Regions from separate parts of the Homo sapiens genome. Here region 1 is linked to region 2. A link means that fine-mapping ties the variant in region 2 to the expression of a gene that starts in the linked region. Tissue or cell type: monocytes after R848. Region 2 holds a variant in brackets; the other region holds the start of a gene. All regions are shown on one strand. Distances are from middle to middle. Region 1 holds the start of APIP (APAF1 interacting protein). Region 2 overlaps PDHX (pyruvate dehydrogenase complex component X).

Evidence for each region.
Region 1: APIP starts here. The variant in region 2 is fine-mapped to the expression of APIP in monocytes after R848 (Quach 2016, PIP 0.95). The same link has a PIP of 0.9 or more in monocytes, monocytes after LPS and monocytes after Pam3CSK4.

Annotation. Positions count from the first base shown.
Region 1 is chr11:34,912,610-34,920,950 of GRCh38, reverse strand. APIP (APAF1 interacting protein) reads left to right here and starts at 4,572. Exons shown (of 7, transcript NM_015957.4): 1 at 4,572-4,723. The coding sequence starts at 4,667. It overlaps PDHX (pyruvate dehydrogenase complex component X), which reads right to left and starts at 4,333. Exons shown (of 11, transcript NM_003477.3): 1 at 4,136-4,333. The coding sequence starts at 4,295. RefSeq lists an enhancer at 4,032-4,331 and silencers at 4,502-4,551, 4,572-4,911.
Region 2 is chr11:34,931,783-34,940,123 of GRCh38, reverse strand. All of the region lies in intron 2 of PDHX (pyruvate dehydrogenase complex component X), which reads right to left. Among named protein-coding and RNA genes, the nearest start is that of MIR1343, 5.9 kb to the left of the region's middle. The variant G/A (reference allele first, on the strand shown) is at 3,318.

The DNA of each region.
Region 1 (8,341 bases), 19 kb after region 2:
ACTCAGATGCCTACAAAAAACAGGCAGGTGAGAGAAGAGGACTAGCATCTTCAGGTTTTTTCTTTAGATTCTGACATCCTTTATTTTCATATTAAATGGATAAGCATTTTCCTCCTTTACACATATACACAATATCTGCTTTCTCCCATTTTTCTTGGTCTTTTGTCTTCTGCCTTCCGTAGAGATAAGAGTACAAGAAAAAAAAATGACAACTAGAGGTGATGCAAATACCAAGGGACATTCAGCCTTGCTAAGATGTAATACAGAGTAGGCGGCATAGTGACAAAGTAGGAAGCAATTTCCTACCTAAAAAGAACAATCATTACTCAGTGTTAGATAATTGTCACCACATAGGATTTAACTATCAATTTTAAAGAGAGAACAAAAATCTAGATTTCTCTGTAAAGTCTCCTGATTTTAAAATTTTGCCATAAGTTTTTCTGCTAAAACAATGTGGGTCAGTTCCCTGGCTGCCAACTTGGAATCCTACTGTAGGCTCTAGTGTTCTTTTATAACTTCCTAGATTACTAGCTTCCTTAGATATGTTTATTGAACATCTATAATATGTATTGCCTATAATTATATACTAGGCAAATCGCCACCAAGATTGAACCTCAGTTACTTTTCTATTCACAGGTTATTTTAAATTCAACATGTTATTCTTCAGAGACAACTTAAAACCAATACTATTAATTAACATCTTACCAATTATATTCCAAATCATGCTACCTACTCTGAAAGGACCACAATTTAAACTCTCTGAAGTTAACTGTCTAGAGTAGGTTGAAAAACTGTTTACAGATGCTGTGTCAATTATATAATGATCACTCTGGTCTCTGGGTCTTTGTTTCTGCTGTTCCTTCAGCCTGTAAGGGCTGTCACCTCTTCCTCTAAGAAGCTGCCTTATATATTATTTCCTGATCATTTCAAACTTACCCCCTCTGAGCTTACTGTATACACTATTGAAATCATACCTTTATTGTTTATGTCCCCAAAGAGACTACAAATACCTTAAGGATCAGCCCTATATAGAATTTTGGATTGCATGTCCAGGAGCTAAGTATGATTAAATGTGCCATGTGGCAAATACTGAGAATCTGTTTGATTCAGCTGGCCACTACTTCCCAAGCAGGGTACCATGTGCCTGGCACCTAATAGATGCTAATTTCTTCACTCATTCTTCAATAATGTAAGTGGTAAAAAAGATAGTCTCTGCATTCTCAATAAATCTGTTGAGAGAATGATACAAATTAAAGATTTGTTAAACAAATTAATATATGTATATAAATATATACATGCACTTCAGTTCATCAACACAGTTACATGTCTTTAGGAGACTCAATTTCTCTAAGCCTTGGTGTTTTTGTCCAACTAAATGCAGATGATGCCAACTTTACTAGGTTATGTGAGAAGTGAATGAGAAATTCTAGAAAGTGCTAAGAAAATGGCATATGTCATAGCTCATAAAAATGCTGCCAGCACCTCTTAAGGAAATTAAAACTCCAAAGGTAGTTCCGACTGACAAATTTTTAAAGATATTTGTGTGAAAGACGAAACAGTTCAATAAATGTACTTAATTTATATAGTTTACAGTAATCCAAATAGTTGTTTAGTTTTATAAAACTACAGTTTCTACCAAGCTCAGAGAAAAAACACCACCGTAAATTCACAGTTTGTAAAACAAATAGTTCAAGGATTGCCACGTGTTTTCGGCATGGCAAAACAAAAATCTGTATGTAGGTGAAAGTCAGAAGCGGATATATTTTGGCTCGGTATTAGGAAAAAAGTCCAACACTTCCAAATACTTAGTATTTCCAAATACTTTCCACAGCTTCACATGCAGAATGCCATGCCTCAAAAGGTTCACGTCCTAATACCCAGAACCTATGAATATGCTGTTACATGGCAAGAGGGAATTAAGGTTAAAGATGGAATTAAGGTTTCTACTCAACCTTGAGATGGGGAAAATATTCAGGATCATCCAGATGAGCCCAATGTAATCACAAGGGTCCTTGTAAGTGGCAGAAGGCAGAGGGGAGTATTAAGAGTGACGTAATGTGATAAAGACTGAACCAGCCATTGCTGACTTTGAAGCCCATGAGTCAAAGAATCTTAGAAACCTCTAGAATCTGGAAAACTTAAGGGAATGGGGTCTCGAGCCTCCAGAAAAGAATGCAGCTCCTACCAATAGCTTGATTTTAGCCTAGTTAGATCCATTTTGGACTTCGGACCTCTAGAACTATGAGATGTGAATTTGTGTTGTTTTAAGCCACTAATTTCTGGTAATTTGTTGCAGCAGCACTAGAAAACTAATTTGGCTTTCCTTGAGATGCCATGCCTTCTTCCTGACAGATGGTATTCAAACTGGGGTAGACAAGTTGTTCATGGTATATGTCTAGGGGATAGGGAATAGGTAAAAAAGCATCATGAGGATGCAGATAAGGATTGCTTGCCTAACTGAGTTTCTAAAGGCATTAAACTGGGCCTATGTATACTTTTTTTTTTTTTTCTCCTGAGACAGGGTCTCACTCTGTCACCCAGGCTAAAGTGCAGCGGCAGGATCATAGCTCAATGAAACGTCTAACTCCTGGGTTCAACGGATCCTCCTGCCTCAGCCCCTGGAGTAGCTGGGATGCCAGCACGCCTGGCTTTTTTTCTTTCTTTTTTTTTTTTTAAGTAGAGACGGGGGTCTCACTTTGTTGCCCGGGCTGGTCTCCAACTCCTGGGCTCTAGCAATCTTCCAGCTTCGCCTCCCAAAGTGCTGGGATTACAGGCGTGAGCCACTACGTGCACATTTTTGTGTGTGACCATTTATGGTACTTCCTCTGTACAGAGAGTCTGTAACATTTTCAAAGATTCTCAAAAGGATCTGCTTGATAAACAAGATTAAGAGCACTCTTCCTAGATTATATCCAATACTAAACTTTTAATATTCCATGATTTTCTAAGGCAGTGAGTCTCAAAGCTCATTCCATTAAATGTCAAAATAAAACATCAAAACTCATCCAACATTTGTAAAATGCAGATTCCTGAGCCCCACACCAGACCAGACCGAATCTCTAGGAGCTGGAAAAAAGTTTAATTTCAACAAACTTGGAGGAGGGAAGAGAAGGAATTCTGCACACACTGTTAAAGCACCTCTGCTCCAAGGAATATGTTATGAAACATTACACCAAAAATGAAATAAATTGTTCCCATTAAGGAACCTTTAGGAACCCCAATACACTCATCTTACCATATGACTTTGTGTGATTTTTTTTTTCTGAGCCTAAGGTAGCTCAGAATATGAAGGCAACGTCTACTAGACCTATTTAAATTAAAATTCATTCTGTAGAGTGCCAGGAACGATGATTGGCAGGTAATACGTCACACTAAAAAACGTCAGTCCTATTCTCCATCCCCGCCTCCCTCCAACCTTCTCCCAAAATAAGGAAAAATAATACCCGGCCTGCCATTTTGCATACTGTTAAATACTGCAAGAATTGTGTTAACTGCATCAATATCATTACTAAACAACAATTTTCTATAATAAATTTTTGGTATGATTTATCTCCTAAATGTTTGCTCTTTCAAGCGAATATTTGCTTGAAACATTCTCCTGGACCTTTGTCTATCGTGATGCCGTAGGAATTTACAAATTTAAGTCTTCCACGAGTCATGGCGTGGGGTAAAACTCGACTGGCCTCAATGAAAACACCTCCTAACAGAGAGAGGCCTAGAGAATAAGTAAGAACTCCCAACAGTGGCTTTTCAATCTCGGCAACCTTGGGCAGCTTTTTCTCGTCCGAGACGTTTGACAACCCTAAAGAAACCTGAGCCTTGATTGGAAAGGGGGCTGAGGGAGGAGAGTTTGGGAACCCTCTCTGCGCCTCACAAATAACCCAAATTCCAAGGCAAGGTCACAAAGCCATACAAACCAGGGGGCCTAGGGCAGAGTCGAGTTCTCTCAGCTGCCAAGAAAGCCCTTCACAGCATGCATTAGGCCAAGTCGGCGGACCCCAACCGGAGAAAGAGGAAAGGGAATAAGGAGCCCGCGCACCTTCACACCCAAAAGCAGGCCCTCAATCATAACTGCCCCTGTCCCAGGCCCATCACTCAGCTACACAGAGAAGCTGAGCGAGCCCCGGCCACTCACCCCGAAGCCACTGCGTGCTGTGAAACCATCTCCAATTAGCTCCGCGGCTTACAGACCACCCAAGAGCCCCCTTCACCAGCCCTACGCTTCGGCGGCCGGGGAAGCCCACAAGATAACGCAGCAGCCGCGGATCACAGCCCAGCCTCCAGGAGGCCGCCATCTTGACGGCCTTCTCACTGGCTGCCCGCAGCACAGCCTGATGTCCAGCATCAAGGCCCCGCCTCCCGCATGGTTGGCCACGCCCCCAGACGCTAGCGGTGCCTTTAGGTCTCTCAGACTTGAACCCCCGCCCCCCAACCCAGCCCCGCCTCCAACCACGTTGGCCTTGCCTCCCGGGAAGTCAGGTGCGCCGCTGGATATCTCAGCCGGCGGGGCCTTACCAGACCCCGGCCCCCGCCCCGTTCGCCCCGCCCCCGGGCTGCCCTCAGCGCCGCCTGATTGCATTTGCGGCCTCGCTGCCGTATCCCAGGCTAAGCGCCGCGCGCAAAGCCGTGCGGAGATTGGAGGCCGCGCGGGTCCCTGGTCTGGGCCATGTCTGGCTGTGATGCTCGGGAGGGAGACTGTTGTTCCCGGAGATGCGGCGCGCAGGTAGGGGCGGGGCCACCGGTGCCCGGTATTCCCAGGAGGAGAGGCCCAGGCGGGACCCGGCGGCTGGAGCTGGGCGCAGGGTAGCGGGCCGGGCGTTTAGCTGCGGGGCGGGGTTTCGGGCCTGGCCGTTCGCTACCCCGGCGCACCGCGACCTTGGCGTTCGGAAGCAAGGCTGCGAGGCCCCAGGAGATCAGTGGTCTCGGGCGGGGCGCTCCGATGGCGGGAGCTGGGCGCCAAACGTTGGAAAGAAGCAAATAACTGAGAGAGGAGAGCGTTTAGGTGACCTCACCGGGTATTTATCAGGAAGGCAGGCCAGAGAAGGAATCGTGAAGCACCGAAGTGGAGCTGGGGCGAAGACCGCGCCCCCCAAGCTTCTTTTCTGCGCCCTGACGACCAGTTAGGCGTTTGGGGGGACGTTTGGCACTCGGGAGACGTTTGCCGAACCGGAGCTGTGCCTCAGCTGCCAGCGCTTTGCCTTTGAGCAGTTGCTCCTTGCCTATCTCCGTTTAGATGAATTGTGGGATGATCATGGGAACGATTCTTCCTTAAGCCGAAGTCAAAGGGAAATCCACCCTCACGCTGCATGTAGTTTTCGGTCATTTACACAAACCAACAGTTTTATGGAGCGCCTTCTACACGCTCAGAGATAGGGATACGTAAGATAAATGGCCCAGGGTCTGGAGAACTAGACGAATAAGCAGTTTCAGCACAATATGATAAACCCCACCTAAGAGGCAGGGAAACCCCTCAAAATTAGTTTCCTTATTCCCCCTATCTTATTCCTCCTATCTATATCTTTCTTAGGGTTGAAAATCCTAATTAAAAAGTAGTAACTCGCGGGAGATTTCATTGCTAAACATTTGTCAACCACTTTCTTGTTTGAATAAGTGACTTCCCCAAATTAGCAAAGACGACTCTGAAAATAGAATGCTGCATAGGCAAGATTGGATGAGAGAGAGAAGATCTTGGAGACAGGACAGGTAACTGGAGATCGTTCCTGGGCAAGTGTGTATGGAGAAGTGTCCGTACCCTCAATCAGTAAATCTTAGTGTAATGTCATCAGAATGAGCATCAAAGAGAGCCTTAAGGGACCCGAGAATAAACTAGGATTCTCAAACCAAACATGGCCCACAGACAGCTTGGTGGACAGGCATGTTTTTTTTTTGCTGCACTCAATGTTCATGAAAAATTTGAGCCAACCTTTTTTTTTTTTTTTTTTTTTTTTTGACACGTTTTGCTCTTGTTGCCCAGGCTGGAGTGCAGTGGCGTGATCTCAGCTCACTGCAACTTCTGCCTCCTTGGTTCAAGCGATTTTCCTGCCTCAGCCTCCCAAGTAGCTGGGATTACAGGCGCATGTCACCACACCCAGTTAATTTTTGTATTTTTAGTAGAGACTGGGTTTCACCATGTTGGCCAGGCTGGTCTCGAACTCGTTATCTCAGGTGATCCACCCCCCTAAGCTGCCCAAAGTGCTGGGATTACAGGTGTAAGCCACCACGCCCTGCCAAGCCAACATTTCAAAATCCAGAATCATTTCAGCTTCTTTTAAAACCTCAGAACACATGGTGACATTGGGCCCTTATTTTTTCATGGGATCTGGATTGCGGTTACTAGTGAACACCACCTTTACAGAGGGTGCTGGCCAGGTTACCACAGCTTCCACTACTCACACTGGATTTGCATATCTAGTTAAATACATGAGCCCCTCTAGATATTTGTATTTGTCTGGTTTTGTACAAATACATAAAAACAGCAATAAGAAAAGTTTTAAGAAGTCATAAAATTTCATTGTAGTTTTAGGGGGTCATGGGCAATGGAAAGAGACAGTCTCTTTGGCCTTAAGGAAGGGGAATGTTCAACTGTAAGTGATTAATTCAACGAATATTTAGTGAGCGCCTACTATGTGCCAGGCATTGTGGATTTATAAGTGCAAGCTGCATCTGGTTCCTTCTCCCCTAGAACATGCTGTACAGTGGAAGAGACAAATTAGCAAAGAGACAAAGATGGTATGACAACATGACATAGTTTGACATATGACGATATGACTTAGATGGGAAAGTTCAAGGTAGTTTAGGAGTATACACTTGAATGGGTTAGAGAATACCTCAGGAAACAGTGAAAGTATCTACTGAGGCCTAAAGGATCAGGAAGACATAACCACATGCAATGAAAGTAAGGATATTCCAAGTAGGGGAAGTAGCATGTACACAATCTCAGGGTTGTCCTTGATTACAGACATGGTGTGTTCCCATATTAAGTTTGGTGTTCTGGAACATAAAGTAGGGGCCAGAGACTTGAGATGAAGCTAAAGAGAAAAGCTAGTGAGAGGTAAAGCCGCTGGGCTTCTGGGTCGGATGGGGACTTGGAGAACTTTTCTGTCTAGCTAAAGGATTGTAAATGCACCAATCGGCGCTCTGTGTCTAGCTAAAGGTTTGTAAACCCACCAATCAGCTCTTTGTAAAATGGACCAATCAGCAGGATGTGGGTGGGGCCAAATAAGGGAATAAAAGCTGGCCACCAGAGCCAGCAGCGGCAACCCCCCTCGGTCACCTTCCAGGCTGTGGAAGCTTTGTTTTTTCGCTCTTCACAATAAATCTTGCTGCTGCTCACTCTATGGGTCCGCACTACCTTTATGAGCTGTAACACTCCCTGCGAAGGTCTGCGGCTTCATTCCTGAAGTCAGCGAGACCATGAACCCACCGGGAGGAACGAACAACCTGCGTGCCACCTTTAAGAGCTGTAACACTCACTGTGAAAGTCTGCAGCTTCACTCCTGAAGTCAGCAAGACCACGAACCCACCAGAAGGAAGAAACTCTGAACATCTGAACGAACAAACTCCGTACACACCATCTTTAAGAACTGTAACACTCACCGCAAGGGTCCGCGGCTTCATTCTTGAAGTCAGTGAGACCAAGAACCCACGGGAAGGAACCAATTCTGGACAAACTAGGACCAGACCTAAAGGGCCTGTTAAGCAAATCTTAGATTTTTAAACTAAGGGCAATGAGATAATCAGCAGGATGACTGAAGAAGGCCTGGGGATTGCTGGCTAGAGTTAAAAAGACCAGAGGCATGGAGACAGACTAGGAAGCCGTGGCAGGCATCCAAGCAAGAGATGCTGTAGGTCTGAGTGAGGGAGTAAAATCAGGAGGTCTTGGTTATTGATTAGATGTGTGTAGTGAGAAAAGAAGTCAAGAATGACTTTTAGGCTTCTGATCTAGTGATTGGGGCCTGGTGGTCCACCAGAAAGAGAATACAGGAGGAAGAAACAGTTTATGATGGGTGTGTTGTGGACATGTTGAGTTTGAGGTACAGCCTCAGCATGTGGTACTATACACTGAGTGTATTTAGCAGGGTTCTCTAGAGGGACAGAACTAATGGAATATATATATAAAGGGAAGTTTATTAAGCATTAACTCACGTGAACCCAAGATCCCGCAATAGGCCGTTTGCAGGCTGAGGAGCGAGGAGAGCCAGTCTGAGTTCCAAAACTGAAGAACTTGGAGTCCAGTGTTCAAGTCGGGAAGCATCCAGCACGGGAGAAAGATGTAGGCTAGGCCAGTCTCCCTTTTCACATTTTTCTGCCTGCTTGTATTCTAGCCATGCTGGCAGCTGAT
Region 2 (8,341 bases):
TGAGGAAAAAAAACAAGGTTTTTCATAACCTCAAATATTCTCTTACAAAAGGAGAACAAGAATTTTTTTTCCTTTCTGTTATTTTAACAGATTTGACAGTTCAATTGATGAAAAAATAAACTAGGTGCAGTTTAAACTGAAAATATCTGAAGCACATGCCCCCTCCAAATAAAAAACTTGTAATAAAAATGCCAAATGATAGCTCAATTGACCTTTCAAAAGATTTTGAAATTGTGGGTGTTACCTAGCACTTTCAGAGCATTTTCTGTACTAATTTTATGATATATAAGGTTTTAGTCAATCCTCAGACTGAAATGAAGTACTCTAATAGTCATTATAAAACTTATTTTCTTAGAATCATGAGTTCAACAAAGACGGAAATAATTTATATGCTATAATACTGCATATTTCAGTTACTTAAAAAAAGAAAATAAAAATGAGTTATCATAGAATTATAAATCCAGGATATTCCGTACCTTAGATTTCAGCTAGTTCAACTCACTCCCAGGTAGTTCATGGCAGAGGAGGAACCCCAAAGGAAAAACCATGATTCCTGGGCCAGAGTTTTTTCTTTGCACCCTTACCTCCTTGGTGTAAAACGCTGCGCGCATGCAAGTGCACACACACACACACACACACACACACACACACACACCATTAGTAAAAGAAGCTGTGAATCAGTCTCAGATCTTTGAAAAAACTTAATGGTTTTTAAGACTGAACTGCTGTCCATTGAATGTTCTCAAATACTTATCTAGTCTTCGCTTAGAAGTAAACTAGATTCATAATTCGATGCAACACTATCATTTTTCATGAAAAATATCAATTTTCTTAATGCATAAAGGTTTAAACTCATTGTTTTATGGTGACCATACATTTAAAAAGATCTCAAAAATCAAACAAACAAAAAACAGTTAATAAGAGAAAAAATATATGAAAAGTATGCTGTCAGAATATAAATTTGTTTTTAATATAAAATGAATGGAGCAAGTTATCATAAATGTACCAAGAACCAGGCATACTTAAACATATATTGACACCCATGTATACAGTAAATAAGTGTTAATGAAAAGCAGCCAATTATACTCAAAAGATCACAAATCACAAAGGTGATGAGCTTCAAAAAGAAGCCAGTGAACCACTAAGAACCAAGGATTAAGATTGCTCTCAATTATTTACTGTGTTTTGGCAAAAACAAATTTCCCTTCAGTTGGCAGAACACAGAATTTTAAGAGCAACCTTCAGGGAAACATGCTCCAGGGACTTAAAATACATCCTGGCCTGTCCTACATGAAAATAGCATATTGTAATCAAAAGGAAAAAAGAACAGAATAATGAGACCATATGTCTGCTGGCTCTTTATCTTACTGCTCATATTCTAACGGGTGTGAATAACTTATTAGATTGCCAGTGAGCTGGAAGTCTGAAAGATAAATGTGGCCCAAGAATCCCCTCATCTGCTTACCTATAAATTCTCAAAGTGTGAAGAAAGTTAATCTTTTTAAAATAATCCCTAAAAGACTGTTCTGTGTCTGAATCATTATTTAATGACACCAACACCCTGTCATATCGAATATGGAAATAGCCAAAGCTCTGTAATTCATCAGAGAAAAGAAACCTAAAAACACATTCCAACTGATTACATTATTTATAAAGGTAAAACTTTCTTAGATACTGACAATTATTTTAAAAGATAGCAGCAGCCATGCAGAGCCAATTGCTCTAAATGCTTTCCAATGGGGTACTGGCTCTTTCATTTACATTACACATATCTTTCTTAAATTCTAGAAAATTCTCTGCCATGTTTTTCTTTGAAAATTACCTCTTCCCATTTCCCTCTTTTTTTCTTCTTCTGAAATTCCTATTGGGTTATTGAATAATTTTCATTTTACCCTTCATATGTCAACTTCTCTTTCATATTTTCCAGTGCTGTCTCTATGTGCTACATGCAACCTAACTTCCTCTAGTCGTCCTTCTGTTCACAAATTCTTCATTCAGTCCTGTCTAATCACACTTCAGCCCACCCTTGAGGTTTGGGGGGTTTTAATTTGAGAGACTATATTTTTCATTACTAGAAGTTCTGTTTATCCTTTTCAAATCTGCCTGGACTTTTGTAATTCCAATTAACTGAAGTTCTTGGGATCCAGTCCTGCTGCTTGTTATGCCTACTGACTTCACTCCTAAAAGACTTCTTCCACATACGTTATTAAATGTGGGATTGTGACTTTTGGTGAGACTTTATCTGCAAATTCTGTATGGTTTGGATTAGAAGCTGTATTCTTCCAGAATAATGGCTTCTACCAGGTAACCCAGGGAGGCGATCAGCCCAGGACAACTTCACTTCTATCTGTGGGTTCCCAGAAAATGCAAGTTCTATAAATTTGACCCTCAGGAGGACTCTTTAGGGGAGTAGGCATTCTTATTCCATATAGATTCAAAATCATTTTGCCTGTTATCACATGGCATTAAATTCCATCCACATGCTGATGACTCTCAAATTTCTGTCTCCAAGTCAGACTTCACTCCTGAACTTCAACTCCTATAATCAGTTATCTATTGAACACCTTCCCTTGAATGCCTCATATGCATTTCAAATCTTACCATATTCAAATTTTAATCTGATTCTTGATTTCCCTTCCTTGCTCCTTCCACCCACCCCGCCACCAAAAAAAAAAAAAAAAGTCAGCAACTCCAGCCTTCCAGCTCAGCCCTAGTGGTGCACATGGCCTCAACTCCCATTCACCACTCCAGATGTGGGGACACTTGGTGATTTCCTTTCTCTGCATTCCAGCACCACTTAACATTGAAAAGATTTACTTATAATATTATATCCGATAGAGAGCAGATGCTTTACCCCATCTGTTTAGATTATCACATTGATTAGGAGTTCTCAGTGTTGGCTTTTCAAATGAGAGCAGGAAAAGGAGGCTACTTTAAATTGCCTACAGTTATCTCCTCATACCAGGTTACTCTTAGGGTCTGTTCCTTTCAACGCAATGCTACTAATAGGGCTCAGAAAAGTATGTAGAAACCACTTCCTGCCCAGGCACAGTGGCTCACGCCTATAATCCCGGCACTTTGGGAGGCCAAGGTGGGCAGATCACTTGAGGTCAGAAATTCGAGACCAGCCAACATGGTGAAACCTTGTCTCTACTAAAAACATAAAAATTAGCTGGGCATGGTGGTGCTCGCCTGTAGTCCCAGCTACTTGGGAGGCTGAGGCACAAGACTCACGTGAACCTGGGAGGTGGAGGTTGCAGTGAGCAAGATCGGGCCACTGCACTACAGCCTGGGTGACAGAGTGAGACTCTGTCTCA[G/A]AAAAAAAAAAAAAAAAAAAAAAGAAAAGAAAAGAAACCACTTCCTATTAAGAAACCATGAATGTGGATCTATTTTGGCTTTAGGATAAGGACCCTCACAGACTGATAAACTGCAGATTGGCATTCAAGATCCTTCCAATAATCTATCTGATCTTACAGCCATTATGTCCCCAATGCAGCCAGACCTACCTGCTGTTGCAAAAGTATGTCTCAGTGACATCTTTCTTCCAAGAGTTTACCCATGTTTTTCTAGCTGGAATGTCCTTCTCATTATTTTTAAAAAGCCCATTTATTCTACAAGGACCAGTTCAAATACTACCTCATCTGCAAAGCCTTCTTGGATCCCTGTCATGTACCCTGCTTTTGGCTTACTTTCCCCTCTGCCATTACCTTTACTAACTGACCACTTACAGCACTGCAGTTCTATTCCAATTACGATGTTAGTCATTATGGGAAGCACAAACATGAACAAACTCAGACATATTCCCCACTGAGGAACAGAATTAAGTAATATGCCCAAACAGACTTGGTTGGGTCTATCAAGGACCAGTAATGTTCATTTGGATAACCTCACTGCACCATACCTCCTAACCTCCATAGTGGCTCAACCCACAGCAATTTTTCTTGCCTTTCCTTACACCCCAGACTCCCTCAAAGAAGTGAGGCCTTGCTTGTCCCAAACTCCCCAGCTCATTTGGCTAGTGTTCTCAAGTAAATACTTGTTAGCCCTCTTCCTGATCCCCACATCTGTCATTAGTGGCAAAAGTGATGCTATGAAAGGCTAGACCTTCTAGAATCACAACACAGCTCTTCCAGACTCTGGTGTCCTGCCCACTGCCTAAACTCTTTTGATACTATTTTACAAGCACTAGACTGGACCACTCAATACCAACATTTGTATGAGTGACATCTGTGCCTACTAAATCACATTAGGATACCCTGGAAGTCCTTGCCAGGGCTAGTCTCTGGAATTAGACAAGTCCTCCCCAGACCATGTTATTCATTCTCTACTTGCACTTCCCTTCTTTCTTTCCCTTTTTAACACTTGATTCACCATTGCTCCAGATGACGCATAATAATGGCTGTGGGGGACTCATTCAGTCACCTCTAATTTCTCTATTTTTCTGTCTAACAATCCCTAATAGGTACTGTAGACTCATCCTCTTTCCTCCACAATAGTTTAACCTGATACAGAATGAATCAAGCACAGAGAAAGACAGCTACATAGGGTGCTAAAAGAGGTTATCCAGTGGCCAATACCTGGAGGGGAGACTCTACCACCACACATGGCAAAGGAAAAAGGGGAAAAGAAAAGGAAAAGAAAGTAGCTGCCAGAAAAACAAAAAGCCCAGCTTCCTTCACATTAACTGTTCCTCTATCCTTCTGTATAAGCACTGTAACATACTCACCTCTTTTATTCATAGTCTTTATTTTCTAAGCACCATATTAGGTACTTAAAATCTGGCAAAATGGTTGCCAGAAACAGTGACATAATACAGCTTTATAGATGGTATTGTATCAAATATTCTCTTAATAATATCAACATTCCAATTCATCTGGTACTAGTTTCTCATCTCAAATTATATCCTGAAAGCACTATGCACAACCTTTAAAAAATATATTAAAAAAATTTATATATAAAAAATAAATTTTGAATTATACAAAAGTGGTAAGGAAAGGCAATGAAGCCACATATACCTTTTACCTCACTTATACAACTGCCAAGTGATTCATGACCGATCTTGTTTCAGTTATACCCCTCCCTACCCTCTCAACCTCAACCAGGGTTATTCTGAAGCTAATCCCAGAGATACTGTCATTTTATTCGTAAGTATTTCATCTCACATCTCTTATAGGTGAGATTTTTTTTTTTTAATAATCAAAATATAACCAAAATATTATTAAACCTTTAAAATTAATAATTCCTATGCTGGGTGCGGTGGCTTATGCCTGTAATCCTAGCACTTTGGGAGGTCGAGGCAGGAGAATCACTTGAGCCCAGGAGTTCAAAACCAGCGTGGGCAACACAGGGAGACCCTGTCTCTAAAAAAATACAAAAAACTAACCAGGCATGGTGGCGCATGCCTGTGGTCCCAGCTACTCAAGAGGCTTAGGTGGGAGAATCACCCTGAGCCCAGGAGGCTGAGGCTGTAGTGAGCAGAGATCGCGCCATTATACTCCAGGCTGGGCAACAGAGTGAGACCATGTCTCAAAAAAAAAAAAAAAAAAAAAAAATCCATAATATCATTAAATATCCAGCCAGTTTTCAAATGTCCGCATGTGTTTTGTTTGCTTGAATCATAATTAAAATTAGGTCCATACATTGGCACTGGTCTCAAATCTCTTGTATGCTATAGGTTCCCCCACCTTCCTCCCCCGGGCTCTTCCCTACCACCCTGAAATTTATTGGTTGAAGAAACTGGCATACAGAATTCCTCAGTCTAGCTTTTGCTGATATACTTCTCATGGTGTCATTGAACACGTTATATTTTCCCCTGTATTTCCTGGAAAATGATAGAGCTACAGGCTTGAACATATTTGGTTCAATTTTCTGGCAAGACTACTTCACAGTGGGAAACATGTAATATCTGGTTATCTCTCTTTTTGTGATGTTAGCAGCTATTAATGATCACTGGCTATACTATTTTACCAGAGATTGCAAAATGGCAATACAGTGATGTTCTATGATTCTTCTATCTTTTAACAACTGTGATATGCTAATAATGAGAAACTTCTCATCAATTACTTGGTTACTCAGAGCTACGGTTCATATAGCAGAAGAGGTAGAGAAAAATGCTTGAGTCTTTCCATTTATTACGTTTTCAAAATGAGTTAATTTCTTAGCACCCTCTAAAGCTAACCAATTATTATTAATTTTTTTTCTTTAGTATTACTGTGAACTTAGGATTCAAATATATTTAATGTATTGAAATATATTAAATATATTATCCTTATTATCCTTAGTGATCCTCAAACTATCTCATCTCTGGCTCCTGAGTCCTTTAAGATGCCCTCAGGAGTTTCTGACAGCTTCCTTGCTTTCTGAACTGACAAGATATTAAAAGCTCATCTGCACATCTCCTGCCCTAGGCCTGCAAGTAGCTACTCTCCAAGGAGCCTTCATTTACTTTAGTGGGAACTGATATTTAGAGACAGTCTGGGTTCTAGGGGTGCTTACTGCGACTGGATTGGTCCTTGTTTCCAGGCATTGCCAGGGGAAAGAGCTAGAAAATTTACCATCACAGGGTCGTTCCTAACCTTAGAAACTTTTACCTGTTTCTCCTTTAAACTACACTAAAAGTCCAAGTTTCCAATGATATTATCTTAACCAGTCATTTGCTTTATCCCATAAAATACACACAAAAGCCTTAGAATAACAATACCAACATAACAAGCATAATACGATTACTCTAACAGTTGAGGATTATACTTTTGGAGACGCTTTATCCTTCAGTTATAATCTATTAGGGCCATATAATCAAACATCTGACATTTGAAATAGTGCCTCTCTGTATGGTTATGTAAGCAAATTGAGAGAGAGAAAAAGAGAGAGAAAAAAATGAATTAGAATCACCTGTCTCGTTTCAATCTTTAGGGCTCTTTTACACTTTAATTTTGTTTTAAAATTGTGCAAGATATGTATATTGTCCCAAAGTCAAAGAGACAAAACAAGATATATTCAGAAGTCCAGCTTCCAGTTTCTCCCCCACACGGTTCCCTCCATTACTCTGTAGATAACCAACTATTGTTGTTTTTAAAGTTTTATTTTATCCTTTCTAATTTCTTAAATATTAGCACTGCCACCTCTTTCTTTGATAAATGATATATACTATACTCACTTGTCTGTACCTTGCTTTTTTTCAATGAAGATCACCCCATAGCAGTATAAAGAGATATTCCTCATTCCTTTTTACAGGTGTAGATACAGTAAAAGTTATTCAACAAATCCTGTACTAACCAACATTTGGATTGTTTCTACCTTTTGCTATTTCAAACAGTGCTGTGATAAACAGCCTAGTGTGTGTTTGTGTCTATTCTTATTTTTGCTGGTGTAACACTGAGACAAATCCCTCGAAGTAGAGCTGCTGGGCCAAAGGGTAAACATAAATGTAATTTTTCTAAATAGTGCCAAATTCTCTTCCCTAGTATTTACACCATTTAGCATTTCCTCCAGCAATGTCTGAGAGTCCTGCTTCTTCCCTTCCCTCCACAGCATCATCAAGAGAACAGCTTGTCGAACTTTTTAAGTACTGTCAATATAATCAGTAAGAAATGACATTTCAGTAAAGTGTCTGCGTATTTCTTACCAGTTGAAAGGTTAGGCGTCTTTTTCTACGTGTAAGAGTCATTTGCAATTATTTTTCTGTAAACTATCTGTTCATGTATCGCCCACTTTCTTGTTGAGTTGACAGTCTTATCGATTTTTTAGGGATATTAACCCTTTGTGATAGAAATCGCAAATACTCTTGTCCAATTTGTCACTTCTTTTTTTACTTAACTTGTATTTTTAGCCATATAAAAGTTAGTACTTTTACCATCAAATTTTATTTCCCATATTATAATCTGGATTTTGAGTTATAGTTAGGGTGTTTATTCCACTTCCGGGTTCAGAGGAATTCAAGACTTGCATAGTTTCATTTTTATACATTAAGTGTATAATTCATTTGTAATTTATCCTTCACATAACATAAAGAATAAATCTAATATTGTCTTCCTTTATTATATACTTAAATTCCATGTGCAACTGCATCTATTTCTTTATTCTCTACTCAGCTGCACTGGTCTGTCTTTTAAGCACCAATCCCAGAGTTTTAATTAGAAATGCTTAATACTATATTTCAATAATTAGCAGGGCTACAACCCTCCTCCGCTGATCTGCTTTTGAGGGTTTTCCTTATATTCTACTTATTTGTTCTTTTCAATAAAATTTATGATGAACTTGCCTACCTCCCAGAACACACACACACACACACACACACACACACACACACACAATCATGATAAAGTTATAAATTAAGGAGAAT